Linked DNA regions of Homo sapiens: region 1 is linked to region 2. The links come from fine-mapping of genetic effects on gene expression. A gene starts in region 2. The other region holds a variant in brackets. All regions are shown on one strand. Distances are from middle to middle.

Region 1 (13,333 bases), 110 kb after region 2:
CTACCTCCCAGATACAACCACTCCAAGCATTTTGGTGAACAGCCTTCCAGACATATCTCTATGCATATATACACATAGAGATCTATGTATATAATTTTATAGACGAGGAATTGTATTATACATACTGTTCTCGCTGACACCTGCTTTTCTCTCTCAACAATATGTCCTAGACATCTTTCTATGTCAATAAATAGAGCTCTACAAAATTATTTTAATTACTTCATAGTAGTCCATTATATGTATCATACTTTATTTAACTGGGTCTTTACTGATGATCATTTAAGGATGTTGTGAGAATTTTGTTCTCATAAACAATGTTGTGATAAATATCCTTGTGCATATTCTCTTTGCTCATTTTTGCAACAATTGCCTTAGAATAAAATCCAATAAATGAGATGGCTGCAATTAAGGGTATGCTATTTCTATTTTGCCACTCTGTCCTTCAGAAAGCTTACAACAGCAAAATTCTCATCAACCGTGCCCACACATTAGTCCAGACCCTCATCAAGCCTGGGTTTTGTCAGCCTTAATGTTTGGCCAGATCAACAGAAGGCAAATGATGCTTGTTTCTATTGGCATTGCTAAGATTATAGGGAGGGGGAAATAAATGTCTTTTTGTTTTTTCAGGCATTTGTAGTTATTTTCTTTGTGAATTGCCTGTTCATGTCCTTTGCCCATTTTTCTAATGAGATATTTATCTTTTTCTTAATGATTTGTAAGAGCTCTTTGTACATTAGAAATAAAATTAAACTGTTGTCATATATATATATATATATATATATACACATACATATGTATATACCCCTCTTTTAAAATTTTCTTATAATGTTCTTTAAGGTACTTAAATGTTTAATTTTCATATAGTCAAATTTATCAATCTTTTCTTTTATGATTTCAAATATCACGTCATACTTAGAAGAATCTTCCCCACCTTAAGATGATCAAAATATTCACTCATATTTATGCCATGTGGTCTTCATGGCTTGAGCTTATTAGACCAAGTCAGAGAGTTCTTACCCCAATAAGGAGTGTTGCTATGGCTGGCCCATTATCCCAACGCCATTTATAAAATAGCCCATATTTTCCCAACTCAATTAAAATGCTGTTTTATCATATAAAAATACCTTAAGGCTGGGTGCAATAGCTCATGCCTATAATCCCAGCACACTGGGAGGCCAAGGTGGCAGATCGCTTGAGCCCAGGAGTTCAAGACCAATGTGGGCAACATGGTAAAACCCTATCTCTACAAAAAAATCCAAAAAATTAGCTGGGTGTGGTAGCCTGCACCTGTAGTCCCAGCTAATCAGAAGGCTGAGGTGGGAGGATCACTTGAGCCCGAAAAGCCAAGGCTGCAGTGAGCCAAGATCACACCACTGAACTCCAGCCTGGGCAACAAAGTGATACTCTGTTCCAAAAACAAACAAAAATTCCCTTAAATATCTGGGCCCATTTCTAGACTCTAGTCTGTCCCAGTGATCTGTCTGTCTATTCCTAGACAAGAATTTTAATTATATTGTGCCTTTATAAAACATTTTAATATCTGATAGAGTAAATATTCATCATTTTTCTTTTTTGGAATTTTCCTTATTCTCATTTGGTATTCTTCCAGATTAGCTTCATAATTATTTTGTCAAAAAAAATTCTAATCCTGTTGGGATCTTGATTGGATTATCTTAATTTCACACATTTGTTTAGGAGAATTGACATCCTTAAAGCATTAAATCTTTCTACTCAAGAACTAGGTATATACCATATTTATTCAAACTCAGAAGAGTTTTCTTCATGTAATGCTACACACTTTTTTGTAAAGTTTATTTCTGAGTATTTTGTGTTTGTGTTTTACAGTATGGATGGAGCTTTTATTTTACCTTCTAGATAGTCATTTTATAAATAGAAAGACTGTTAGTTTGTGTAAATTTTTTTGTTACTGGCCATTTTACTAAACTCTATTTTTTCTGATTGTTTTACAGAATATTGTCTTGAGTTTTCCAGATAAATAATCATCTTATCTGCAAACTATGATTATTTACTCCTCTCTCCCAACATTTATACTTTCTGTTTCATCTTCTTATCTAATTGCAATGCCTAGCACTTTTGGAAAAGAGTTTTTTAAATGTTGATAACAATGGTTATCCTGATCTGGTTTCTGATTTTAATGACAAAACATCTAGAACTTCACCAACCTAATATCTCTCGTTCCATTCTCTCCACCTCTGTAGCCACTATCTTATCTAGCCCATCCTAATTTGTCAACTGTGTTACCATAAATATGGTGAATAAGGATACAGGGTTTGAAGTCAGATGACCTGTGTTCAAATCCTGACTCCACCATTTGCTAATTATGTGGTCTAGTCAAGTTACGCAAGATTTTGGAAAGTCAGCTTAAAAAAAAAAAAAAAAAAGAGGGATGGGGGAGGCTCTTTTAAGGATTAAGTGAGATAATACATGAACTATGTGTAGCATCCATAAATGATAATTTTTAAAGTCTCAGCCCCCAATTTCTCTTTCCAATCCTATATATATATATATATATATATATATATATATATATATATATCCCACTCTTACGTTGATCTTCCCAAAATATCACTGTGTTCACATCACTTATCCTTTCCCTTCCTCTGCTCACAAATCTGAAGCTACACCCCATTGCCTACAAAATCAAGCCCAAATTCTTAACCTTGCATTTGAGTCATTCCATTATTCAATCCCAGACTTTCTTCTAGTCTCATTTCCTATAGACCTCAGCCACCCTCACCCCACTACGCACCCTCACCCACCCTTTACTCCCGCCTACAGGGTCTCCTCATTCATGGCTGCCTAACACCAAGTAGACTCTCGGCTCCCTACTCAGATCCCTCCATCAGCCCCCGTATCAGCCCCTGTATCCAAACTGGCCTAATAAAGCAGATTGATTAGTTCATGTAATACTCCAGATGCAACAAACATCAGGCATAGTTTGACTGGGGCTGGGACTCCATTTTTCTGTGATTTTCCAGGTTCTTCCCACCTCCATATGTTGGCTACATTCTCAGGTTAGTGTTCCTAGTCACCAGATGCCTGCCAGAAACTAGGCCCACATGTTTCCTCATTCAAATCCAGATACAAAGAGATTAGACGTGCTTCCCCAGCCATCTCACCAAAACCCCGAGTTTCTGTCTGATGGGGCCAATCTGAATCAATTCCAGTGACTAGGAGAATGTATGTATGGTTGGTTTGGAACCAGCCAATGTGCCAAGGTCAGAGAAGGGGGCATTATCTGAATTGGCTAAACCAATCAGGATCCACCTCAGAGCCACACACACTGATGGAGACAGAGGTGGCGTCGACAACCTCACTTGCACTACAGCCTCTTCCACTTCTCTTCCCTGGGACTTAGGCTTCCTTTAAGGCCCAAGTCAAGCCCCAGACCTCTGGCAATGTGCCCCTCCATTTGGCTCCTAGAGCTCTTACTCTGCTTGACGCATAGTAACCACTGCCATATATAATTTATTTATGTAGTCATTTGTCTCATCTTTCCAATTAGTAGTCACAGAACTGATTGAAGCCTACAAAATGCTTTCCACAAGCTAGCCCCTTTGACCTTCACCACAGTCCTGTGAGACTCAGAGGGGTTAAGTGATTTGCCCTATGTCACACAGCCAGAAACAACATTGTCCCAGAGGCCTCTGCAGCAATTGCATACACACACACACACACAAACACACACACACACCACAATCCCTCCTCTAACCTGCAACATTGGTCTGATCTGAAGATGCAGAAACCCCCCTGGAACCACCTCCTTTTTCCACTTCACCTCAATTTCTAGAGCTCTTAGTTTTCCTCCAAAAAGTACAGGGAAAGTTTTCTTGCCAGACAGCAGTTTCTAAGATTTGTGTGACAAGGCCAAGTAAAATTCAAATGACTCTGGGTGATTTAATCTGCTTGGGGCTGGGGTGGTAAATCAGGGCAGCCCAGGCTGCCACAGCCGCCCCAGAAACGCACGAGCCAAGCTGATGATAGGAGTTTATCTGCAGATCTGCAGGTGAGGGCCCTGGAAGCATGAACTGTGGCCAGGGGAGTTCCCCTCCACTGCACTCAGAATACATTTGGAAGGTCCTATGGCCCACAGCCTCTCTCGACCTACATGTTCCACCAGAAACCATCCTTCCCAAGGCTGCAGCCCCAGTTCCTCCCTCTCCCACCCCCCACCCCATCATCAGAGCTGTTTCCCAAGTCCACACTGGACTTTTCAGGGGAAGGAGACCAGCATGGGTCAAGCTCTCACTGAAACTGCCGCCTCAATGCCAGGCCCTCATGTACCCATTACCTCATTTCATCTTTACAACAACTTAATGAGGGAGGCATGCCCATCCCCAGTTTACAGGTGACTTAATTGAGGCTCAGAGTGATTAAATTTCTTGCCCAGGGTCATTACACAGCTAGTAGGAGGCAAAGCCAAGATTCAAATTTAGTCTCATGAGACTCCAAAATCCCCATCCTTTTAACTCTACCCCATTATGGAGGCCAAGAGGAGTAAGAAGATGGCAGCTTCACTTGGGACCATGTTGTTTGAGAAAAGAGAGGAGCAGGCCCTGGTGGAAGGGAGGTTGTTATTGTGAGCAAATGAAGCAACAGTATTCCCATAGAGAGGAAACATCAAAGGAAAAGGTAGTCACACTTAGGTACCCACTGTGCTAAGCAATATGTGTATATCTGGGTACCATGTGCCAGGTGCTCTACGTCCATCATCCAAACCACAACTCTATATGCCATAAATATTTACTGTTAGCTGGTAAATACTTACCAACCAGCTTTTTGAAAGAAAAAAGGAGTCCTGATTTGTAGCATTTGCCAATTTCTGTGGTGTAAATACTCCCACGATGGTCAATTTCAAGCTACCAATGGGATGTCAATGCATGCAGAATTGGGAAGAGATGCCCAAACGTTTGCCAGTAGGAACCCACTCCAGTGGGTTCTGTTAGCCAGTAGGAACCCACTCCAGCACTCTACTGTCAGTAACAGAGGTGTTGTTAGGCCAGGTGTGGTGGCTCATGCCTGTAATCCCAGCACTTTGGGAGGCCGAGATGGGCAGATCAGTGAGGCCAGGAGTTTGAGACCAGCCTGGCCAATATGATGAAATCCTGTCTCTTTAAAAATACAAAAAAAAAAAAAATAGCTGGGTATGCTGGCACACACCTGTAATCCCAGCTACTTGAGAGGCTGAGGCAGGAGAATCACTTGAACCTGGAGGTGGAGGTTGCGGTGAGCCGAGATGGCACCACTGCACTCCAGCCTGGGCGACAGAGCGAAACTCCATCTGAAAAAAAAACAAAAACAAAAACAAAAGTTGTCGTTAAACCCACTTAACAAATGAGATCATACAAAAGGTGCTTGGGCTAAAATCCATGCCTTTATAATTTTCTAAAGTCCACATTCCCTCCACAGCTCCATGTTCCCAGAAACAAAGATGATGCAAGGAACCACAATCACTGATCTCTAATCTCTGAAGGAGGGTAGACGCCAGTGAAGTCCTGAAGGGCAGAAGAAGGCCAATGGGTAAAAGTTCAGCTGCTCAATATTCAGTGTATAGAAGAACTTTCTGAATGCCCCTCTAGGCTGACAGCTACGGAAAAGCAGTATCCAGGCATGGCTGGCACATAGTAAATGCTCAGTAAATAATTAATGAATGAATGAGACATTACACACTGTTCCATTGATACCTCAAACTCACCAGATCTAAAACTCAGCTATCTTTGTTCCCAAAAAATCCCTCTCTCCTCCTGTGTGTCCCATCTCAGTGAATATCACCAAGCCAGAACCTGAGAGTCCTTGTATCTTCACTCTTCTCCACTCCCCATAGCCAATCAATCAACAAGTCCTATCTATTCCACTTCCCAAATACCTTGTGAACAGGTGCTATCCTCAGTGTCCCCACTCTGCCACCCTGACTGGGACCATCACCACCTCCTGCTGAGCTGACACACAGCTTCCTGACCTGTCTTGTCAGCACGTATCCTTGGCCTGTATCTGCTCCCAGCCCCTATCAAATCCATGATCAACAAAGCTGCCAAAGTCATCTTTCAAAATTGTACCTCTGAGCATGTCACTCCCACAGCTTCAATGAGTCCCCATTACCCAAAGGATGGAGTCAAACCCCCTTGGTCCTCCCGAGGTCTGGTCCCATCTCCCTCTCCTAACTGATGACTCGCCTCCTCCCACACCCCACATTGGTCTTTTGTGGTTTTGTTTTTGTTTTTGTTTTTGTTTGAGACAGGGTCTCACTCTGTCACCCAGGCTGGAGTGCAGTGGTGCCATCTCGGCTCACTGCAACCTCTGCCTCCCAGGTTCAAGTGATTCTTCTGCCTCAGCCTCCCAAGTAGCTGGGATTACAGGTGTGCGCCACTACACCCAGCTAAATTTTGTATTTTTACAAAATACATGTTGGCCAGGCTGGTCTCAAACTCCTGATCTCAGGTGATCCACCCACCTCAGCCTCCCAAAGTGCTGGGATTACAGACGTGAGCCACTGCACTCGGCCACATTGGTCTTTAATCTTCAATGTCAACCTGCTTAATGTTCACTGCACCGTGCCTCCACCCATGCCTTTGTTCACACTATGTCTCCTGCCTGGAATGCCCTCTTTTCCCTCTTCCATCTTTTGCTTTCCTTTGCCTGATAACTCCTACTCATCCTGTAGGATGTAAAGGAAGATAGTTTAAGTAGATGATTCCTGGAGATCTTTTTAATCCTAACATTTCATGATTCTAATGCCAAGTCTTGATATTCAAGGTCCTCTGGATATTATAGTCACCTTCTTTCTCCTTAGGACCCTGCAAAGGTCTCTAGGGATCCTGTAATCCAACTCTACCATTTTACAGACAGAAAATTGGACACCCAAAGAGGGAAGAGGACTAGCCCAAGATCACACAGCAACTCAATGGCAGAGCCAGGACAAGAACTGGGCACCTGCTTCCCAGCTCAGGGCTCTTTCTTTGCACTACATCTTCCAACCTGATCCTCCTCTGCCAACATGGATATTCTCACCACAACCATCACTACCCGACTCAGACTTACCTCCTCTCACCAGAGCCATACTCACACCTTGCCTGCCTTGGCCCAGGATGTTGCCAGGCTGTTCCCTCAACTCCACTCAACTTCCAGGGTCCTCTACCTCCAAGAAGCCTACCTTCATTATCAGGCCAAAACCCTCCACACCCACTCTTACATACCCTTCCCCAAACCAGCCATGTTTGTCGGAGCCCAGCAACTAGGGCTTGGTTCACTCACATGCGGTAGGTGTCTTGTTCAGTTTCACCAGGCAGGATGTCCACTCCTTAAGGCTGGCTGGTATCTCTTCATCTTCTTTCTTCTCCTCCCTTTACATCCCCCAGCTCGATACACAACTGCTCAGGGTAGCAAAGTATAGCCAAAAACAGCA[T/CGGCAT]CAGAGGTCAGACAGATGGAGGTTCAAATCCCAGCTCTGTATGCCCTGCAGGGTTGACCTTAAGTCATCTGAGCCTCAACCTTCCTTATCTGTAAAATAGCTCCTACCACCCAGGGTTGCCATAAGGACTGAATGAGCTCACCCATATTACAGGCGTAGCACTTGGTGGGCCCTTAATAAACGAGAGCTCCCTTCTCCACTGCCTTTCTCACTGAAGCCCAGGACACTTGGAGAAATTGACTCCTCTGGGCTGGGAGAGGGGCAGCCTCATGAATACTTTCTCTCACTCTCATCCTCAACAGGCTACGAGCAGCCTGCATACAGACACATGGGGCATTTCCAACCCCCTTCCCCACCCCCAACAATCTGCTTTAACCTTCCCATCACAAATGCCTTGTTTATTTCAATATCACCCGTTTTACTTTTCCGTTCACGCAAAAAAAAAAAAATTACAAAAACAGATTTAAGGGGAAAAAAAGTATTTAATGAGTAAAACTGTCTGTAGCTCTGTTTCTTTCTCAGGAAAAAGTGGCTGTGATTCTGGCATAAGAGAGGGAAGCTCAACAGCTTCACTTCATTGCAGCTGCCAGGAGAAGCACATTTCAGAGTGGAACAGAATCTCCAAATTAAACAGCGCGTCTTCCAGCCAGGAGCTTCCTGTGCCGAATTCAGCTTGGCAGGTGACATCCCAGCTTAAGCAGAGATCCAGCCCCAATGTGAGCAGCTGCAAGGCTCCCTCCTGTTGCCCCTCCTCCAGCATAGGAGAACCAGCCTGGCCAGGCCCTGGCAAGCCACTGACCACCAGAAAAAGGGCTCTAAGAAGGGAAGGAGACAGCTGGAAAAGGAATGGATACACCTGGCCAGTAGGAACTAGGGAACCAGGAGCTCTCCCCGTTCCAGAACATTCAGAGACCAGCACTTTCTTCTCCCTTGACTTAGGGTAATTGGGCATAAAGAACAAATCCAAGACAGACCTCAAACAAAAACCCAGAGAATATGCAGTGTCTTTCCCACCTTCAAAGGTGTCATTTTGGAGGCTGCTCTGGATGGAATCCAAGGGTCAAACTCCAGAAGGACTCTGCCTCCCCTAATAACTTGAAAAGAAAGGGAGAGAACTGGAAAAACAGAAAATAGCACATGACCTTCAAATACCTGCAGTACAAACTGCCCCAGGGCAGAGAGTAAACTGAGGCTAGAGAGAGGCCCCCCTCCCTTGTCCCAAACACCATACTTCTATTAATGTAGCCTACTGACTCATGCTGAACTTACTGGCACTTGAGCTTCTAAATCTTTCTCATGAGCTGCCCATCCCTTCTACAATTTTTCCTGTAGTCAAGATGGGCCTCAGCCTTTTTCCCTGTGATATTTCCTCAGCTAAATTCACCTTGCCACGCCAGTCTGTCGAGATCTTTCTAAATCCTGATTCTGCTGAGGTTTTCTCTGTCCCTTGGAGCTTTCTACCACTCCACCTTTTATAAGTCTGTATCCTCCATGTCTTCTTATAGGTCCTTGGCATAGACTGATCAAAGCAGGGTGGACAGCCCCATGGCAGTGTCTAGAGGCCTTCTGTAGACTGACCTGGTTACACTTACGTGAACATTTCATGGCTGTTGTTTGGCCCAATGGGAGCCCTCTTTGCGCCCTCTCAGACATCCTTCATGTCCTCAAAAGTCACGAGAGACTCTACCCAACATCTTAGGAGACAGTGTGATATGGCAGAAAGGGTCAGACAGACCCAGGTTTGAATCCCAGCTCCACCCACCTTGGGCAAGTCACTTCCCGGAGACTCAGTTTCTCATCAGTAAAATGGAGATTGTCACGTCTTGTTTAATCCACAAGCTTGTGAGGATTAAATAAAACCATGCGTGTGAAGTATCCAGCACACAGTTGGTGCTCAATAAATCACAGATTCCTCTCCACCCATGCTGGCTCGTTTTCTTTACCCACGAGTCATTAAGCTGTCAAGAACCTAAGAGCTGTGCCCGGTCTTGGTGAACCCATGTTGGCTTCAGGGATCACTGCCTTCTTTTGTATGTCACAGATCTCACCATCCATATTAGACCCTCATACTAATTTGAGATCGGCCAAAACCCTGGATCTTTTTTTGTCTGAATTCCTGTCAAGACAGTCCTTCCTTCCTGGACCTGTACAGCTTTTTAAATAACAAGAATAACAGTAGTAATGACAGCTTGATCCTTCCAATCTCACTATGAAATTTTTTTTAAAGTATCTGCATTGTGCCTGTCAGGAAACTGAGGTTCAGAGAGGTTACATAACCCTCCCAAGGTCACACAGCTGGAGATTGTGAAAGCTGAGTGCAGCTGTCTGACCCTGACCACCACACTCACGCATTAGAGAATATTTCCTAAATGCTGGCCTAAGGGGGCATATTGTCTCTGGCCTTGCTGCATGTGTCTTTCAGCCTCAGCCCAAAGTTTCACTTGGTTGAGTGCCTTCTAGGTCCTGACACTGTCATCCACAGGGTGGCCTCCCCTCACCCCACCTCCCAGCCGCTCTGTGCCCACCACCTTCATATTAAATGGGACTGGACTGAGGCACAGACCCCACCACTCCCTGAAGACTGAAACAGTGGGCTTTTCATGTTGGCCCCCAAGCCCACATCACACCATAAACTCTTTGATGCCTGGGCCCCCGATGCCCCCACAGCCCAAGCATAGGGCCAGCTTGGACCCTCTTTCCCAACCCCTCATCAGGGCTTAGCCACCTGCCACCAAACCCTGATGCCTCTGAACTGACCACTGCCTCCTGAATCCCTGGTGCCAGGATTACCCCCTGTCCAAGTGGCACCCCAAGGCCCCTCTTCCCAGACTGTCCAGGTGCTGAGGCCAGCTGCTGCTCATGTGGCTGTCCTCCAGCACTGACTACAGCCTTTGCCCTTCTCCTGATGCCTCCCAGCCCAGGGCTCAGACTGTGCTATAGGGTGAGGGAATTCCCTAAGCATGAGGCCCAGATGTGCCCACAGGCAAAGGAAGGGGTGGACCCAGGAGGCTGCCAGGGACAGGGCTCAGGCCTGTGGCCACCAGGTTTGCAGCCCACCAAGGAAAAGATTCCTAGACATTCCTAGGGAAGCCATTCATGGGTCTGTTTGCAAATCTTTGACAATACCCAAGCAGGATGCCCCAAACCTGAAAGCTCTATCAGAGACTTGCCCTCGGGCCTCAAAGTACACAGTTACCCACATCATCAAACACAGTCACCCACATCATTAAAAATGCAGTCCTGACTGGGCATGGTGGCTCACGCCTGTAATCCCAGCACTTTGGGAGGCCAAGGTGGGTGGATCACTTGAGCTCATCAGGAGCTCAGGACCAGACTGGGCAACATGGCGAAGCCCCATCTCTACCAAAAAATACAAAAAAAAGCCAGGTGTGGTGACTCACGCTTATAATTCCAGCTAATAGGGAGATTGGGGTGGGAGAATGACTTGAGCCCAGGGAGGTGGAGGTTGCAGTGAGCAGAAATTGCACCATTGCACTCCAGCCTGGGTGACAGAGTGAGACCCCATCTCAAAAAAAAAAAAAAAAAAAAAAAATGCAGTCCTTGACTATCACACACCCACACACACTTTATAAACACATTCACAGAAAACACTTCAAAAGCCCACTCATGCCCGCATGACACACAGAAGCCCATCCATCCACTCAGTAAATATCAATTAAGCACCTGCCAGCTGCCAGGCACTGTTCCAGGCACCCGAAAGACATCAGTGGACAAACTGAACAAAGGTTCCACTCTTTGTGAGGGCTTTCATTCTAACAGGGATACTAACAATTTTAAAAACTTAGGATAGTACATAATAAATAAACAAAGCTAGACATGGTGGCTCACGCCTGTAATCCCAGCACTTTGGGAGGCTAAGGCAGGTGGATCAACTGAGGTCAGGAGTTCAAGACCAGCCTGGCCAACATGGTAAACCCTGTCCCTACTAAAATAGAAAAATTAGCTGGGCTTGGTGGTGTGCATCTGTAATCCCAGCTACTCGGGAGGCTGAGGCAGGAGAATTGCTTGAACCCAGGTGGCGGAGGTTGCAGTGAGCTGAGATCGCACCACTGCACTCCAGGCCAGGTGACAGAGTGCAACTCCCACTCAGAAAATAAAAATAAAAAGTAAACAACAATTAGTAAATCACTTGGTATACTGGAAGGTAATTTAAAAAAGAAAAATGAGAACAACATAAGAAGAACTAGAGAGCTGTGGGGAGGGGAGGGCAGAAATTTTTTTTTTTTGAGACGGAGTCTCGCTCTGTTGCCCAGGCTGGAGTGCAGTGGCACGATCTCTGCTCACTGCAAGCTCTGCCTCCCGGGTTCACGCCATTCTCCTGCCTCAGCCTCCTGAATAGCTGGGACTACAGGCGCCCACCAACACACCCGGCTAATTTTGTTTTTGTATTTTTAGTAGAGACGGGGTTTCACCGTGTTAGCCAGGATGGTCTCAATCTCCTGACCTCATGATCCGCTGGGGCAGGCAGAAATTTTAAGTGGAGGTCAACACTAATTAAGAGTGACACTTAAGGGAACTCTTGAAGGAGATGATTAAGTTATTCATTCATTCATTCAGTGAATGTTCTTGGACATCAGCTACACCATCATGTGCCAGGGACTGTTGTAATAGTGGGGATACAGCCATGAACAAAACAGGTAAAACTCCTACCCTCATGGGGTTTGCATTCTAGCTTTCAGGAGAGAAACCATAAACAAAGAAGTAACTACTAATACCCAGTGTGTCCAATGGTGATCAATGTTACGGAGAAGATGAAAGCAGAGGAGTAAGAACGGGGAGCCTCCCATATCCACCCTCACAAATCCTCCCACTAGGCAAACACACACCCACAGATCACCTCCCAAGCTCACTGTCACACACGCTCACGCCAGACTCTACACAGACTCACAATACAAACACAGGTGCATGGCATCCTCGCTGCTGTAAGTACACTCACCTGAACATACAAATACGCCCACATGCAGGCAAAAACACATGCACAAACACCTACAACACATCGACACACGAACATGCACACAAACATACCCAGCATAAACACGCAAATGCTCACCAAACACACACGCACACCCCAAGCCCGGCTCATTCAAGCCTTGGAGAAACACACCCTCAAGGTCACACAGAGAAACTAGACAGTCAGAACTGGCAGAACCCTGGGGAACCAGCAGAAGCTGGAGCCCGGAGAAAAGCGACAGCCTGCCCGAGGCCTACAGCATGGCCATGGCACTATGGACACCAGTCCGGTCCTGAGTCCAGTCCCAAGGCCAGCACGATGCAGCACACACTACCCCATCCATAGACTGTCAACCTCAGCACTCAACAAAGACACTTACGCTTGCAAAACACTCACAGAAACACACACACACGCTTGCACACAGGGACACACACAGAGGCACACATGTTCATGCAACAGCACAAACCTCATTCCTCTCCCATGTAACAAGGCGGGGTGAGGTCTAGAGAGTTTCTTGCAATTTCAGCATCCCTTGTCCACTTCACCAGCTTCCACCCACCCCACACATCACAGCCGTTCCAGCCACTGACAAATTTTCCTCCTGCCCTTACCTGTGGCCGTGAGCTGTTTGCACATGCAGATGCATCGTGCGTGATTGCTTACATGTGTGGTGTGGAAACGGGTGGACATGTTTGCGTGTAAGTATTCAAGTTTGCAGTGTGTGAACACCTTTATGTGTTTATGCAAGTGTGTGTGCACCTGGGTGTATGCGCATGTTCTCAGGAAGAAAGAGATTTACAATCTAAATCCTGTTTCTCCAGGGAATGAAAGAAAGCAAAGTTCAGGTTTAAATCACACCACCGTGGGCAGGAGAGGTTCCCCTGCCCTACTTGATTATCTGCCGGTGTGCAGCAGGACTGGCTGGCAGACAGGAGGCG
Region 2 (15,704 bases):
CCTTCTGAAAGAGGAAAAAGAATTCTCCCCGGACCCCGCCCTAACCACCAGTCACTTCTTGTGGGATGCTCCTCATTCCATTCCTGTCCACGCAGACGCGAGTTTCTGTAGAGTTGTAACCACCATATGTAAGCAATTTTGCATCCTACCATCTATATTTGGCATTGTGTTTGAAGCATTTTCTCTTTGTAAAAATCATTGGTTTTAAAAACATTACATAAGCAATATATGCTTATGGTAACAAATGCAAACTATGCAGAAATATATGATATAAAAAAGGGAACATTGCCCCTCCCCAATAGACACCCATTCCTTAAGATTGCCACTATTAACAGTTTAAGGCTCATCCTCCAGACATTTTTCTGTATCTATAAACACACACACACACACACACACACATATATGTATACTTTAAGACATTTTTACCAAAAAAAAAAAAAATTATGTTTTGCAACTTTTTTCTGTAAAAATGTTGTGAAAATATTTCATGTCAGTATATACAGAGACCCACTTCTACCTTTTGGTCTACTTTATACATTCCATTGCTTATTTCACTTATCCCTCATTGCCAGGCGATTAGAATATTTCCAATGTTTATCACACACCGTGCCACCATACATCCCTATACATACATCTGTGCAAATGTTTCTGTAGAATTGATTCCCAGAAGTGAGAGTGCAGATCTGAGCATGTGACCTACAAGTGTTTTCCACGTTGTTTCAGGCATCCCAATTATCACTTTTAGTATCTGCAGAACCACCTTTTGAATCCAACTTAGCTGACTCGCATAGCGGAAGGGAAAACAAATCTGTTTAAAGCTCTCCTATCTGCAACTTCCTTCCTATAGAAAAAAAAATAACTTGGCGAGCCCCTGAGGGTGTAAATATAAAGTGTCCACTCTAGGAAGTGGTCTGGAAAGAGACGGCAAAACTAAGAGAGGGTTGAATTGTGTGTAGAATGTGGAGTTTCCTGAAAGATCTGGGAGAAATGGATGTGTGGGGAGTTTATGGAAAGAGAATACCAGCAATATGGCAGAAAACTTAGGGTCCTATGAAAGAATTCCAACAGCAGGAACTTCCCCAGCATGGGTTTTGGCTGAGGGGTTTTTATATAGGGCCCGGATATAGGATCTTCACTTAAGAAATGTGATTTGAACTGCGCATAATCAATGGTGTTCTGGTGGGGGTTGAAGAACCAACTCTAGGGAAGGGGCTGAAAGACCTTGATGTGCAGCATTTGCTGATTTCCGTGATATAAATACTCATCCCATGGCACGAGTCTGCTGGAGGGTACTGAATGCCCCACCACTGTCCTATAAACCATTGATAAAAGTCTACTCAACCCAACATCCCTGGACCAGTGGACTCCCCGAGCAGAGGAAATCAGGTAGGGTCCAGCTTGGAGTGAAGAGATCAGCAAGTGAGGACAGGTGCTACAGGATCCAGAAGGGAGCTGGGCAGCCAGCTGCAGTGAAGACTGAGAAAAGGATGGGAAGCCTCCCTTGAGAATACTTAGGGGCTTCCACTGTGTGGAAAGGGCTTGAGTTACCTCTTTCAAATGTGAAGGAATTACCCCAAAGGCCTGGAAGATGTGGGGACCCCTGGTGTCCCATTTGGGGCGACTCTAGTGTTGCACACTTGAGCCTCTTGCACTGGCTAATGCTGGGATGAACTCTTTAGCTTGCACCCAAGACTCTACAAGCTAATCCTCAGCTCCTTCTCCACCCTACCCTTCCTCTTCCTGCCTGCACATTCTCTGTTCCACGACACCACAGTCCTTGCCAGTCCCCAGATACACGCTGCATGCACCCAACTGCAGGCTTTGCCCAGCCCTTCCCTCTTCCTAAACCACCCTTTCCCTCCATTTGGGCTAACCACCGCTATATCCATTCATCAAGGCCCAGTTCAAATACTCTCTCCCCAACAAGCCTTCTCAGGCAGAATCTGTCTCCCTCTCCCCTGAAGCCCCACAGTCTTTTGTTTAAATGGTTTCCATACCATTAGTTAATGGTCTCCCCACAGTCCAGAGAGCTCCACTGAGGAGGAGTCCTAGAATTCACTGTCTCCCTGTCCTCAGACAGCACAGTGGTTTCCACAAAGCTGATCTTAAGTCACCATCTAAGAAGCCTGTTATACACTCTGAGCCCTACCCCAGCATCTGACATCTATGTGATGGACCCCTGAAAGGTAAAAGAATTGTTCTTATCACAGAGGGAAAGAAGCTGGGCTCAGAGAGGCTTACCACCTTGCTTTGTCATCCAGCAGCAATGCTAGAGCTCAGGTCTTGCCCTTAAGTTCAGCCTTGTATTCTATCTGTCCGAAGGAGGAGGGATCTGCAAATGATCTATCCCAGGTGCTTCCCACCTGGGGCCTCAGCCTCCTGGGGATTTGCAGGTTTATTTAGAGGAGACCTCGCTTTCATTTGCACACAAAGGAGAGATGAGGAAATCCATGTCTCCGCCTCTTTTTTGTTTTGTTTTTGTAGTTTTGGGGTTTGGGGTTGTGTTGTTGTTGTTTGTTTGTTGTTTTTGTTTTTTACATTAAAAGAGGAACCACTGAGGAGTCCATCCCACATTTTACTGATGGTGAAACTGAGGCTCAGAGAGGGTCAAGGACTTGGTCAAAGTCACACAGTGAATGTGCACGCTTTGTCCTGTGTCAACTTAGCAAAGCTGGAACTACATGTCCCAGAATTTCCTGCACAGTTCTGGGTTAGGGGTGGCCACAAGAGAAATTTGTGTGAGATTTGGAAGGCAGAAGTGGAGCAGCAGCTTCATTTGCACTCAAGGTCTATGTGGGTTTGGGTGATTCTCAGCTCATGCGTGTGCAGCCCACCTGCTGGCTCACCTTGTTAGCTTGCGATCTTGGGGTGGCAACCCCAGATCGATCTCCTCTTTCAGCTTCTCCAAACTCGGGGCCTGGCTTGTGTGCAGCTTTGTGGTGAAGCGGGCTAGTTCTTCTGCAGATCACCCATATCATCAGTTGGAGGCTTAGAGGCAGTGGGAGGCCACCCAGGTGCCAGTGAGAAGCAGATGCCATCCCAGCAAGCCCTCAACTGGTGACGCTCCTCCTTTTGTGTTCAGGCCATTCTTTTGGGTTCTGCCTTGTCCTTGCTCACTTCCTCTTCCTGTCCATCTTCTCTTGCTGACCGCCAGCCCTGCTGACTCCAGGTCTGGAGCAGACACGTGAATACAGGCTGACACCGCTGCCTAGCAGCTCCCATGATCAGGAAAAGCCTTGCCCCGAGCATAAAGCCCTCGGATCACACACGTTCTGCTTCTCTGATAGAACTCTGATAGAACAGTGACCTCCTGCAGAATCAACAGCCTGAGGCTCCTGCCCCTGCTCTGGACTCCTTGCCACTCTCAAGAGGCTAGCATGATGACCTGAGTCCGAGGCCCCAGGCCCCAGGCCCTCCCCAGTGAGATCACTGCCTCCATCACAGGGCTGAGGCTCTCAGGTCTCCCCCAGCCCAGTGGCCAAGGGAGAGATATGTCTGGCCTGTCCCCCAGCTGTCCCCCAGCATGGTCCCTGCAGGCTCCAGGGACCCCAGTCCTTCCTCTCCTCATATAGCCCCCACCAGACTGCGGGGCAGACATCTCATCCTGGCTCCATATCTTCCCCCACCAGGCTGGGGTTTTTGAAGGCTATTTATTTCTCCTGGTCCCCAAGCCCATAACCTCTGAGCTGCCTTGGATGCCTGCTGTCCCAGGGACTCTATAAATAATCAGACAGTAAAGATGTCACACCACCAGCTTGGGCCACTGCCCAAGCAAGCCTGTGGCTGGCCCTTCCTCACGGGCATCTCCACCCGCACACTGAGCTGGGACTTATTACTGCTCGCCCCATATAGGGTTCCTGCAATCTACGGCAGGACAGTCTCCACACTTCAGCACTGAGCAGGGATTTCAGGATCAACTGTTTTCTCCTGTCCTCACCAGGCCCTTCCTTCCTCTGGAAGGTCCCAGGTAGCCCAGGAGACTCTCCCTTTTTGGAAGCTACTTCAGAGGAAAAGGTGACAGTAACACTGTGGAAATAGATGGATCTGGATTCCAGTGTCTCGACTACCACTTGCTAATTCTGGGACCTTGCAGAAGTCGCATCACCTCTCTGGGCTTTAGGTACCTCATTTATAAAATGAGGATATTAAGATGAGCCTCATAGGAATGTTGTGAGGATTAAATAAGGTGCTATATGAAAGCACATAGCCCAGGCTCTGGGCATGTTATAAATGGATGCCATCTTCTTATTATTCTTGTTATTTTTTTTTTATCACTATGGCCACCAAATTGCATGCTCCATGAGGATGAAGACTGTGCCTGACTTGTTTTCTCACTCCCTAGTACAGTGCCTGTCACATAATAGCACTCAATACCTATTTGTTAAATGAACGAAGGACTATAATAATGCTGACTGATTAGGGCCAGTGTATGTTTAAAGTACCCAGGACTGGAGAACATTTGGAGATTTCAGTAGGTGAGGTTGCTAGAACATTTTTTGTCAAGTGTGACCATCTGTGTTCTCTTAAAGTTTTTCTTTTGCCACCTGCCAACTACTGCCCCACAGGCAGTAACTGCGCTGGAATTCACCCATGGGGCAAGGACTTCCACACCTGCCAGCAGTGCAGAGCCAAGCAACACCTTGCTCCGGATGCTGCACCTATAATTAGGGCAGCTTTGACCCACAGCCCCGCTCTCCTTCAGGGCAGAATGCAAACAGGGTCCAGCCCAATCAAAAGGTACACCCTATTAATATCACCCATGTAACAGATGAGGAAACTGAGGAACAGAAGGATTACGTAAACTTGTCTAAGGTCACATGGCTAGTTAGCGCTGAAAGTAGGATTCAAACCCACCTATTGCTTATCATATACAGATCATATGCAGATCTTATATACTCTGTAAGGTAGCTATTAATATCTTCATATACAGATAAGGAAGCTGAGGCTCAAGGAGGGTTAGTAACTTGCCCAAAGCCACGCAGCTAGTACAGTAATCTTATATAGCATATGAGCATTTGATTCCAAAATTGGTACATCAGGCAAAAGTTGCATAGAGTTCAAATTTCTCTTCAATTCCTTGAAATCGGCTCCCTGGCTTTCTTTGTATATAACCTAGTACAGTCATTTTTACCTAAACACCCTTGAGTTTGAGAGCAGATGAGCTGAACTGAAGGAAGGACAAGAAGGAAAGTTTAGGCTGGGTGCGGTGGTTCATGCCTGTAATCCCAGGACTTTGGGAGACCAAAGCAGGCAGATCACCGAAGCAGGTCGGAAGTTTGAGATCAGCCTGACCAACATGGAGAAACCCCGTCTCTACTAAAAATACAAAATTAGCCTGGTGTGGTGCCGCATGCCTATAATCCCAGCTACTCAGGAGGCTGAGGCAGGAGAATCGCTTGAACCCAGGAAGCGGAGGTTGCGATGAGCCAAGATCATACCATTGCACTCCAGCCTGGGCGACAGAGAGAGACTCCATCTCAAAAAAAAAAAAAAAAAGGAAAGCCTGGGAGAAGGCATCAGGACATAGGAACACAACATCATTCAACTGCTTCAGCCTTTCAATCATGATTAGCCCCCTGGCACACATGAAGCAGGGGAGGAGATGTGAAGCATTCCTACCAGGCTCACTTAATTGAAATTTAATGTTAGTGCCCACTGGTCTTAATATATATGAATAGATGTCATTGTTAAGCCGATTAAATGTGTAACATATGTAAAAGCACCTGCACAGTGATGGGCCTAGAGTAGGTGCTCAATATATGTGTGCTAAATTTGAATCTACAATCATTCATTCATTCAGTACGTATCGAATTTCTACTAGGGGCCAGGCCTCAGGGGAACAGCAGAGAACAAGACGGACAAGATACCTGTCCTTATGGAGCCAACATTCCAGTCGAGGAAACACACAATGAGCAAGAAAACTAGTAGGTACACAATAAAATGTCAGGTAGTGATGGGAAGAAAAATAAAATGGATGGGGGAAAGAGAGTAGTGGGGCGGCTCTTAGATAGGGCAGGGAGGGCCTCTCTGAGGAGGTGGCATCAGAGCCAAGAACTGGTCTGGCCCAGACAAACCGCCCACATGTGGACACCATTGTCCGAAAAGTACAAAACCTGGTCATCTGCTCCCTGCCTTTCCAAATTCACATTTTATTTTGTGGCCTCCACTGAACAGCCATCACTGCCATGCCCTTAGGCATTGGGCTCATGACCCCTTACAGTGGGAGGGGAGGGGTAAGGAGGGGCTGCTAATGTGATTCCTCTGTAAAAGGTGAATCAAGCTCATGCCCATCCACCTGACACCAGGGCACTGGGTCTCTGTACCACGACACAGCTTCGGTGCTAGAAAAAATCCAGCTGTAGCTGTGGAGACAAGACAAAGCAATGACTTGAACCAGAATATTGATTCTAGAATCTCATGATGCCTCTGATCCTGAGGGTTCTGGAGCCAGGAAGGGTCCTGAGACACACCTAGCACTTCACATTCACTAAGTCATGCGTGATCATCAAATCATTTGATTAATTCCCTTACTCTTACAGGTAGGCAGACTGAGGTCCAGAGGCCATGGGACTCTCCGCAAACCACAGAGCATCAGCGGTGACAGAGATAAGAACTCAGCTCTCCCAACTCCCAGTCTGGTGCTCTTTATACCAAAAGTCCACCTTCCAGTTCACGGGTAATCAAAAACTTTCGTTTGGTCTGGGGTCGTTTCAACAGCAGATGTGCTCGTCTCTGTGCAGGACCTGCCTCCCAGGGGAATACGGTAGTGCTGAGAAGAGGGTGTGGACGGACTAAGGGCTGAAGAAGTCCTGGAGACGGGGTGGCGATGGTGAGTGTGCTTGCTGAGCCCAGGAGACGGACCGCAGCACCGGGCACTCGGGTGGGGTCCAGAGGAGAGGAGCCTCCTGCAGGGACAGCAAAGCTGACGAGAGGACAACATAAAGCCACTTCTGTCTTTACCTCGCATTGCCTTTGCACCACATCCATTTGGGTACGGTGCAAAGCTTCTCCCGTTTTATTCCTAAGTCTGAAACCGCCTAGCGGGAGGAGGGAGAGGAGTGTTCTTTCATTCTCTAAGGGCCTCCCGTGTGCCGTATGCTGGGAACTTCTCCTTTCTCATTTTATTTCCTTCACGCAACAACCTTGTGAGACGGTGATTCTCATCCCTGTATTACAGATGGGGCTCGGAGCTCAGTGTGGGGGCAGCTTGCGCAGCAGCCCCCTCCACCCTCTCGCCCCAGGTCACCACTCAGTGGTGCAGCTGAGATTCCAGCCAAGGCCTGCAGAGCAGAAGCCTGTGCTCTCTGAGGCGTGGTCTCCCACGCGGCCAGCTGGAGGGCTCCTCCGGAAGGGTTTCCAGGGAGGCCATGAGGGCTGTCTAGATTGATAGCGAGTTCCCCACATCCTGTAACCCCTCCCTGCCAGGCCTGTGCCCGCCGCTCTGGCTGCAGGCAGGGAGCGAGGCTGGGCGCTAATTTACACTTGTTTAACTACAGCTGCCGCCCTCCCGCCATGTGTCTGTCCGCCATTTATTGCGCTTTCCAAAGCCCTGCCCGGCACTCAGGGGCATTTCCTGCCTGCGCTAATGGAGGAGAATAGACGCATTATATGTGAATAATGGATTATGATGATACAATTTGGGTCTCTTAGCTCTCACCGAGCCTAGGCTGGCCTTGCATTATTGATAACTTACACACACCTTCCCGAGCGTGTTTATGTAAATATTTAATAGGGAAAGCAAGTTAATCCATTGGTTTCAGCCATTTCCAGAGCACTAGAAGTAAGGGCCATGAGGGGTGACTTGGGGGGCCCCCAGCAGGAGTTAGTTCTCTTTGGAAAAGCCGGGAAGTTGCCAAGATGCTCACTTGGCCACAAGGAGTGTATGGCCTTGAGGTTTGGGGTTTTCCAAGAGCTGAAACAAAAGGGTAGGGCTACCTCACTGTGGGAGATCACCTCCGGTCAAGAAGACGAGTTGTCCAACACAGGCAGAGCAGGGTGAGGATGTTGGGATGAGGGGTGCAGATTACTGGAATGCAGCTGTGGTGGACGTCACCACTGAATAAATCGAACCATTGCTTCCTATCTTACATGGCCGATTTCCTGTGCTTCCCCATGGCTTCCGCATTTCACACTCCATTGCATGTTGGAAGGCAATGCTTTAGAGACTGCCTGGGTTTCACCCTGGGCTCCACCACATGCCCACTGGACGGCAAGTTAGTTAATCTCTCTGTGCACTGGTTGTCACATCTGTAAAATGGGGAACTAATTTATTTGTCTCATAGGTACCCATTGTTGGTGCAAGAATGCAGTGAGATAATATATCTGAAGTCCTTTTACAGTGCTAGGCAATACTACCTATTACCATATAAGCCACAACTGGAAAGATGCACATGCTTTCACATGGGTCTTCATGCCATGGCACACATTAGCCGGCAGTGTTTCTGAGTGGTGTAGAAAATAGTTGTGCATCCCAGACACAATGAAATATGGTTATTTTGCTAATATCCTGTTTCTGGCAATTAAACTACTGTGTATCCTTTGGGAAATCACGAGGGTGGGCATGTGCCCCATCTGCTTATGCAGAGGGTGGAGGACCAGGCAGAATCAGGAGATCTGAGCTGGCCTCCCTCTGCACCCCACCCCAGGCACCTGCCTCCTCTCCAGCTTATCTCCCCCATCCCCTTCCCGGGTTGCCATTGACAACCTGCCATTCTCAGAGCATGCTTCTGAGCTGCCGAGCCTTCGCACCTGCTGGCTCCTCCACCTGAATGTCCTTCTCTCTGTCCTCTTCCTGGAAACCCCAGCTGCCTCAGGATATGGTTCAGTCATCACCTCCTTCATCCAGCCTTCTCTACCTCTTTGTCTTAACATTGAAATGGCCAGCGTGTTCTTCTACCTGCCTGCCAGACATGCAGGCCCAAGGTACCAGGAGGCAGATGCTGACAGATGCATCTCAGTATGCCCGGCACCTCCACCACACAAGGGCTGTGCTGGTTGCTGTGGGAATGCTGCAGGGCACAAAACGGATAATGCTGGAGGGAGAAGACAGCAAACACAAGGCTCAAGAAACTCCAGTATGTAAGAAGAGGACATGCACAATGGAAGAGGGAAGCCACCATGCAGAATGTCGGGGTGCACTTTTAAATGGGACAGTCAAGGTAAGCCTCACAGCAAAGGTGACCTCTGAGCAGAGGTCTGAGGGAGGTGAGGAATGAGAAGAGTGAACAGCCAGTATGAAGATCCAAGGTGGGAGTGTGCCCCTGGTGTGTTCACGGAAAGCACCAAGGTAGGCGTGGCTGGCACAGAGTAAGAGAGGGAGGTCTTAGCAAGCGGGGAGGTTCAGGTAGTACAGGGCCTTGTGGCCTTGGCAAAGACTTTGCCTCTTGGAGGATTATAAGCAGGTGTGACTGGGTCTAGTGTTTGTGTTTTAAAGGGATCATCCTGGCAGCTATGTAGAGCATTACTATAGGGGTCAAGTACCGCAGCAGGGACAGCAATTAGTAGGCTACTGCAAGAGTCCAGGTAAGATGTGATGGTGCCTTATGCTAGGGTGGTGGGAGTGGGGGAGGTGATGGGGGATGGCTAGGTGCTGAGGTTCTAACAGAGGTGGAAGGTGGAGCTGTCCGGGTTTCCTGATGGTTTAGGTATTTGAAGTGAAAGAAATAGCAGAATCAAGGATGACTCCAAGGTGTCACCAGAAGGATGGAGCCATCATTAACCAAGTGGGGAAGACTGTAGGGGCGGTGGGGAACAGGTTTGCAGAGGGGAAGATGAGGAATTCCATTTGAGATGCATTATTAGACATATTAGATCTGATATATCTATTAAACACCCAAGGGGAGAGTTTGAATGGGCAACTGCTTGTAGGAGTCTGGAGTTCTGGGAAGAGGGTCGAGGCTAGCATTAGAAATGTGGAAGCCATCAGCATACAGATGGATGAGCTCACAAGGGAGAGAGTGTAAGGAAGAAAGACATGGAGGCCTGAGCCCAGGGCGCTGCAAGGAGTAAGGTGGGGAGGGAGGAGAACCAGCAAAGGATGCAGGAAGAAGTGCCCATGGTGAAGGAGGAATACCCACTTGTTGAAACTTCAGTGTGTTGGCGCTGTAATAAACAATTATGATAAAATAGCCACCATTAATTGAGTACTTACTCTTTGTTAGACACTTCACATATAGTTTTCCCTTTGATCCTAAGATTTGGGAGTTCTCATTCCCATTTTACAGATAAAGAAACTGAGGCTCAGAAAGGTAAATCTGCCTGACCAATGTTTCACAGCTAGTTATGGCAGCACAGCAAAAAACCCAAGCTTCAAGTCAGCCCAACTAACATTTTTTGACCATCTGCTGGGAGCTGAGTGCTCTTGATAGACATTATCCTATTTAACACTCTCAATACCCTTGCAAAAATAGATGTCATTTCTACCCATTTTACAGATGAGGAAACTGAGGCTTGGCGTCTCATTGAGTGACCTACCCAAAAGTTACCCAAGGAGAAATGGGCTCGCAGAGATTTGAATCCTGGTCTCCGGCCTTCCTTTAGACACTTGGGGTGCTCCCAAGTCTGCATTTGGAGAGGGGAACAGCATTAAAGTATCAGCTGGAGCTTCTCAGCTTGAAATCCTAGGCCTCTTCCAGAGGCCAGATGTTCGGATGGTACCAAGGGGCTCTCCGCTGAGTCCTAGGCTGGGAGCAGAGAGGGAGGGGACTCTGTTACCAAATCCCAGGCTGGGCACTCCCAGGGAGTCCCTTCCTCCCCACCTGCATGGCATCTGGCCTCCGCCAGCTCCTGCCTGGCTGCCAGATATACCAGCTGTGGCTCCTCTCCACGGAGAGTCTCATTTATTAATTAACGTGGACGCCAAGGGGGCAACTTCTCAGGCCCAGCCTCAGAGCAGATCTTGGCACATTTTTCAGACTTTGTTTAATAATTTATCATCTTTTAATCATAAAAATAATTAGCACAAGAGTGATAATCTATGCTCTGCCGAGAGCAGACCAACGGAGGAATTTTCAGACAGTGCCAGAACCCAGAGAGCAGAGCTTTGGCAGCGAGGAGAGGAAGGTTGGCTCCAGGCCAGGTGTCCTCTCCAGGACTGGCCCCTGGGAGTCAGGTGTCAAAGATGCCGTCTGGCTTTTGGGGGAACTCGAGGACCGTGCTGCTTTCCTGGGAATTTGAGGCTCCTGCTCCTAACTCTGACTTGGCTCACTGGATAGCTCTCTGGGAAGTTCCTTCTCTGGGTCTTAATTTTCCCACCTGTAAAATGGGAGTTCAATTAGATAATGAGTAAGGACACTTTTGTTCAAGGCGCCATGATCCAATGAGATAGCAAATGTAGAAGCAGTGGCTGTGGCAGTAAAGACAGTGAGCTGGAGTGCCCATGAGAGCCACGAAGCCTTCCACAGTCCCCGCCACCTCCCACCCCGCCAGCTTCTGCATCCCCAGGTGCTCAAAGAGCCCTGGGACAGACTCAGTTCTGCCAGGTATAAGCCGTGTGGCCTGGGGCAAGTCCATCTCCTCTCTGAGCCTCAGTTTACCCATCTGAAAAGAAAGAGTGATCGCTCATGTCCTGCAGCTCTCCCAGAGAAGATCCAAGGGAGAGGATGACAGGGTTACCCCTTGGAGACATTGATCTCATTCTGCCCCACATTTAACTGCCACTCCCTGTCCAGACTTTCGGTTCTAGAGGGCAGGGCAGGACTGCCTCATCCTCTGTGCCTGATAGCCCTGGTAGTGACCGAATGAGCTCAATGTTCTGCCAATTCCAGCAAGGTGTCTTGAGATTGTTCAACCTGTGCAGGCAGACACATCCTCCCACCAGGGCGGCAGCACGGTCCGGTGACTGTGGGTAAAACCACAGCAGTTCAAGAAAGCAACTCCTCCTCTTCTTGTGGGGTCTTGTACAAGCTGCTTTGCCTCCAGCTGCCTCAGTCTCTTCATGTGAAATTGGGGATATCTGTCTTAGATTGGGGGTCCCCTGAAGCAGACCTAGAGACAAGAATTCAAGATCAAGTCATTTATTTAAGAAGAGATCCTGGAAGTTCCAGTAGGGAGTGGAGAAGTGAGACTGGGAAGGGGAGGAGAGCAATGAAAGGCGCGTGAATGAGCTGGTGACCACGCTGGACCCAGGCCTACTGGGGCCATCTCAAGGGTTGGCAAACTACAGCCCACAGGCCAAATCAGGCCTGCCTCCTGAATTTGTAAATAAAGTTTTATTGGAACACAGCCATGCCCACTCATGTCTGTATTATCTGTGGCTGATTTTCTGCCACAATGACAGAGTTAAATGGTTGCAACAGACACCATATGGTCCTCCAAGCCTAAAATATTGACTCTCTGGCCCTTTGCCAACAAACTTCCCCAGCCTCTGGTCTAGGACATAGCGTAGAACTGACCTCAGAGCTGTCTCCTTTGAAGGAGAGGAAGCTGGACTCTTTATGCTTCCACCCCAGTCCATTGCTGACTGTTCCCAGGGGCCCTAACACCTACCCCCCTACACATACACTTCCAGTGCCAGGGAAGCACACTCTGGCAGCCAGAGGAACCCTAAGGAAGAGTCATGGCAGGTATGGGGCAGTGAGTGCCCAGGGGAAGTTGGAGACTGGGGCATCCAGGGCCGCTGCTGCAAGATCTCACTAAACTGTTAGGAGGACTAGATCAGATCATAGTTGGAAGTACCAAGAACAGGGAGTGCCCTCTAATACTCCACACCTTCCATCATCACCACCAGCCCCTAACCAAAGTCATTCCTGGCTGGCTCATTCCCAAATGATCTGCGTTCATCTCCTTGCTGGGCCTCTGCCTGCCTGTCTTTCTTAGGTGCTGCTGATTTCCGAGCTCCAGGTGACTCTGGTCCTGGGAAGAGGGTTCCTCCCCAGGCCCCAGCTCTGGTCACAACTGCACTCGCACTGTCCTCTCCCTGGCTCCGGCGGGCAGTCCTGCCTTTCCTGCTTCATTCTCAAGTGCCTCCTGCCTCCTGCCTCCTGGGACCCCATAAGCCCACCCACCTGGGCTCTGTCCTCCTCAGCCTGAATTTTGGACCTGCTCAAGGTGGGCAGGGGACACTGCCCTCTGGTCTCCATCCCAGCAGGCGAGTCTTCTCTTCCTGGTCAGTTATGCCACCCTTCGACCCCACCACCACTCTAAGTCAATTCTGCTCTTGCTCTCCTGTGCCATCCAGAGGCTGTCAGTACCACCTGGGCCCGGCCCTCACCTTTTACCCACCCCTACTGGTGAGTATTGTGGGCAGTCGGCTCTGGGCTGCTTTCAGAGAAGGACATAGGCAAATGGATTTGATGATCAGGGCTCAATCTGGGGTCATGGTCAGGGCTCAGTCTGCTCAGTCTAAGACCAAGGTCCCGGCCCAGTTGAGCAGAGGCCAGAGTCACAGCTCAGTCTGGGTTCCAGTTCAGGATTCAGATTGAGGCTGGAATCAAGGCAAAGCCTGAGGTCAAGGTCAGGGCTATACCTGGGCCGAGGCCCAGGGATCAGTCTAACCAAGAAGCACAGCACACCCAACTGGTTTATCTAACCGCTTAGCCCAGGCCATAGCTCCTGCTCCTTGGCTCGCCCCCCTGGCCCTCCCTGGGAACCTCCAGCCTGTCCCTCCCCACCGGGGTGCCTGCATTTCCATTCATGTGTGCGCCCTCCTGGCCAGGCAGTGAGGATTCCCAGGTCCATCTGTCTGCTGAGCTGTCGTGGGAACCAAGCTCAGCGAATGGGCCCGAGCCTGTCTCCCTCCGGAGCCTGCCTCCAGACTGTTGGCGTTCACGGCTCTGCCTCGCAGCCTCCGAGCTGGGCTCACGCTGCTGAGTCCAAACGCCGTCCACTGCTCAGTTCCAGCCAGCCACCAAGCACTCCCCAGATGGGCAGGGACCACGCCATGCCTGCCTGCCTCCTGCCTCAGGCACTGCTCGCTCCCTGCCAGAGGCCCAGGGGAGGTGCCCAGTCCCCAGACTCACAGCCCTGGGGGCCATGCAGGGCCAGGGGAGGGCAGGGAACCCACCTCCACCAGCTCCAGGACCCTGAGCACCATTCAACCAGTGATTCCCTCCAGCCTGGCCACTGGCCCTGGTGAGGCCTGGCCTCCCTCCCTCCAGGTGCCTCTCGGCCTGTGTCCTCTAACCACAGAACTGCCCTGAGGTCTTGGGGAAGCCAAGGTGAGCCATGCAATATGACCCCCAGGGCCTCCGTCTGAGAAGCTCCAGGCAGCATGGAGTCCAGAATCAGGCAGCCCTGGGCTTGCATGCCGCTGGTGCCACTTCAAGCTGTGGGACCCTTGACAAGTTACTTTGTGCCTCCGTTTCCTCATTTATAAATGGGAGCTTCTAGGTTGTAGTGAGGGCTATTAAAAGGTATAAACCCCCTGCAGGGGCAGGAGCTCGAAGTCTCCATCTGTTATCTTTGTCTGCCTGGCACCTCTGCCCCCTTCTTCTGGTTGTGACACCCCCTCCCTGTGCCAAGCTGGCCCTTCTCCACAACCTGTGGGTCTGGTGGGGCAGCCAGTTCTGGGAGCTGGCCCCTGTGGTCACGGAACAGACACAAGCTGGCTTACAGATGGAAGCAGAGCAGAGACAGAGAGAGGCTGCATGAATGGCTGGTCTATTGACATCACCTGGACCCCCAGAACCCTAGGGCCAGGCCCCCCCAAACCTTCCAAGCACAGAGCCAATACCTCCCTTTTAGCTGAAGCTGTTGGACATGAGCTCTTATCTCTGGTGACCTGGTGACAGGGTTCAGAAAGAGCAGGATGCACATATTATGGTTAAGAGCCTCGACCCTGAAGCCACAATATTGGGGTTCAAGTCCCAGCTCTGCCACTTCTTAGCAGTATCACCATAGATGAGTTACCCAAGCTCATGGGGTTGCAGTTTCCTCATCTGTAAAATGGGGATGACACTAGTACCCACCTCCCAGGGTGGTTATGAGGATTCACTTAATTAATATATGGAAGACATTTAGAATAATACTTGGCTCGTAGTAAATGGTATATAAGTATCTGCTAGTATTTTTATTTTTTTTAATCATCTCCTGCTCAGTTGTCCAGTCTAGAGGACAGGATGGGATACTCGACAAATATTTATGGGGTCCCTACTGTGTGCTCCACATTGTGATGCACTGGCCACAAGGCTGCTGTGGGCTCCATCCTCCAGGGGCTCACTGCCAGTGAGGCTGGGTGGCCAAGGAACTACTGCTCCAGGGCCGCCAAGATGAAGCTGCACCCATGGCACCCACGGCACCCACAGCACCCACTCGGCACCCACTGCACAGTGAGCTGCTTTCTAGGAAGCCTGTCGGGTGGCCAGCCAGGGTTTGGGCCAGGGCTCCCAGTACTCATTTGGTCCCTGGAATCTTTATCTGATGCTGGGGAATTCTTTCTAAGTAACTGGGGCCTCCAAGACCCTGCTGACCAGGATCCCTGAGAAACCCCCTCATCCTCCCCAAACCTGACATCCCCAGCTCTCACTCAGGACCCTGGAGAACAGGGGATTGTGGACACATTAAGAAAATCATGCAGAGATCTGGGAGAGAGGGTACGGACTACAGCGACGAGTGGCCAGAAGAGTCTCACGGGGACCCCAAAGGACAGAAAGTGACTTTGTTGTGCAAATAGGAACATTGAGAGAGGAGGAAAGAGGCAAACTAGGGCAGACTCTGAAGTTCGTGTAATTAAGCACCCCTACCCTAGGCCATATCAAGAGGGGGTT

Alleles and levels. Positions count from the first base shown, and alleles are read on the strand shown. Sizes are in standard deviations (SD) of each study's normalised expression.
In carriers of allele T in region 1, the expression in sun-exposed skin of the gene that starts at base 6,489 in region 2 tends to be lower than with CGGCAT alone (small effect, 0.21 SD a copy in GTEx).

The links. PIP is the estimated chance that this variant, and not a neighbour inherited with it, causes the effect.
Region 1: its variant is fine-mapped to the expression of LINC01343 in sun-exposed skin (GTEx, PIP 0.99). The same link has a PIP of 0.9 or more in unexposed skin.

The regions. Positions count from the first base shown.
Region 1 is chr1:38,097,601-38,110,933 of GRCh38, reverse strand. MIR3659HG (MIR3659 host gene) reads right to left here. Exons shown (of 5, transcript NR_168386.1): 2 at 8,438-8,517; 3 at 7,273-7,388; 4 at 5,182-5,302. Among named protein-coding and RNA genes, the nearest start is that of MIR3659, 15 kb to the right of the region's middle. The variant T/CGGCAT (reference allele first, on the strand shown) is at 7,424.
Region 2 is chr1:38,205,552-38,221,255 of GRCh38, reverse strand. It overlaps LINC01343 (long intergenic non-protein coding RNA 1343), which reads left to right and starts at 6,489. Exons shown (of 4, transcript NR_038928.1): 1 at 6,489-6,539; 2 at 8,805-9,158; 3 at 9,434-9,522; 4 at 10,434-12,222. LOC105378654 (a long non-coding RNA gene) reads right to left here. Exons shown (of 7, transcript XR_001737987.2): 5 at 10,474-11,985; 6 at 8,749-9,008; 7 at 2,016-8,247. RefSeq lists an enhancer at 15,244-15,704.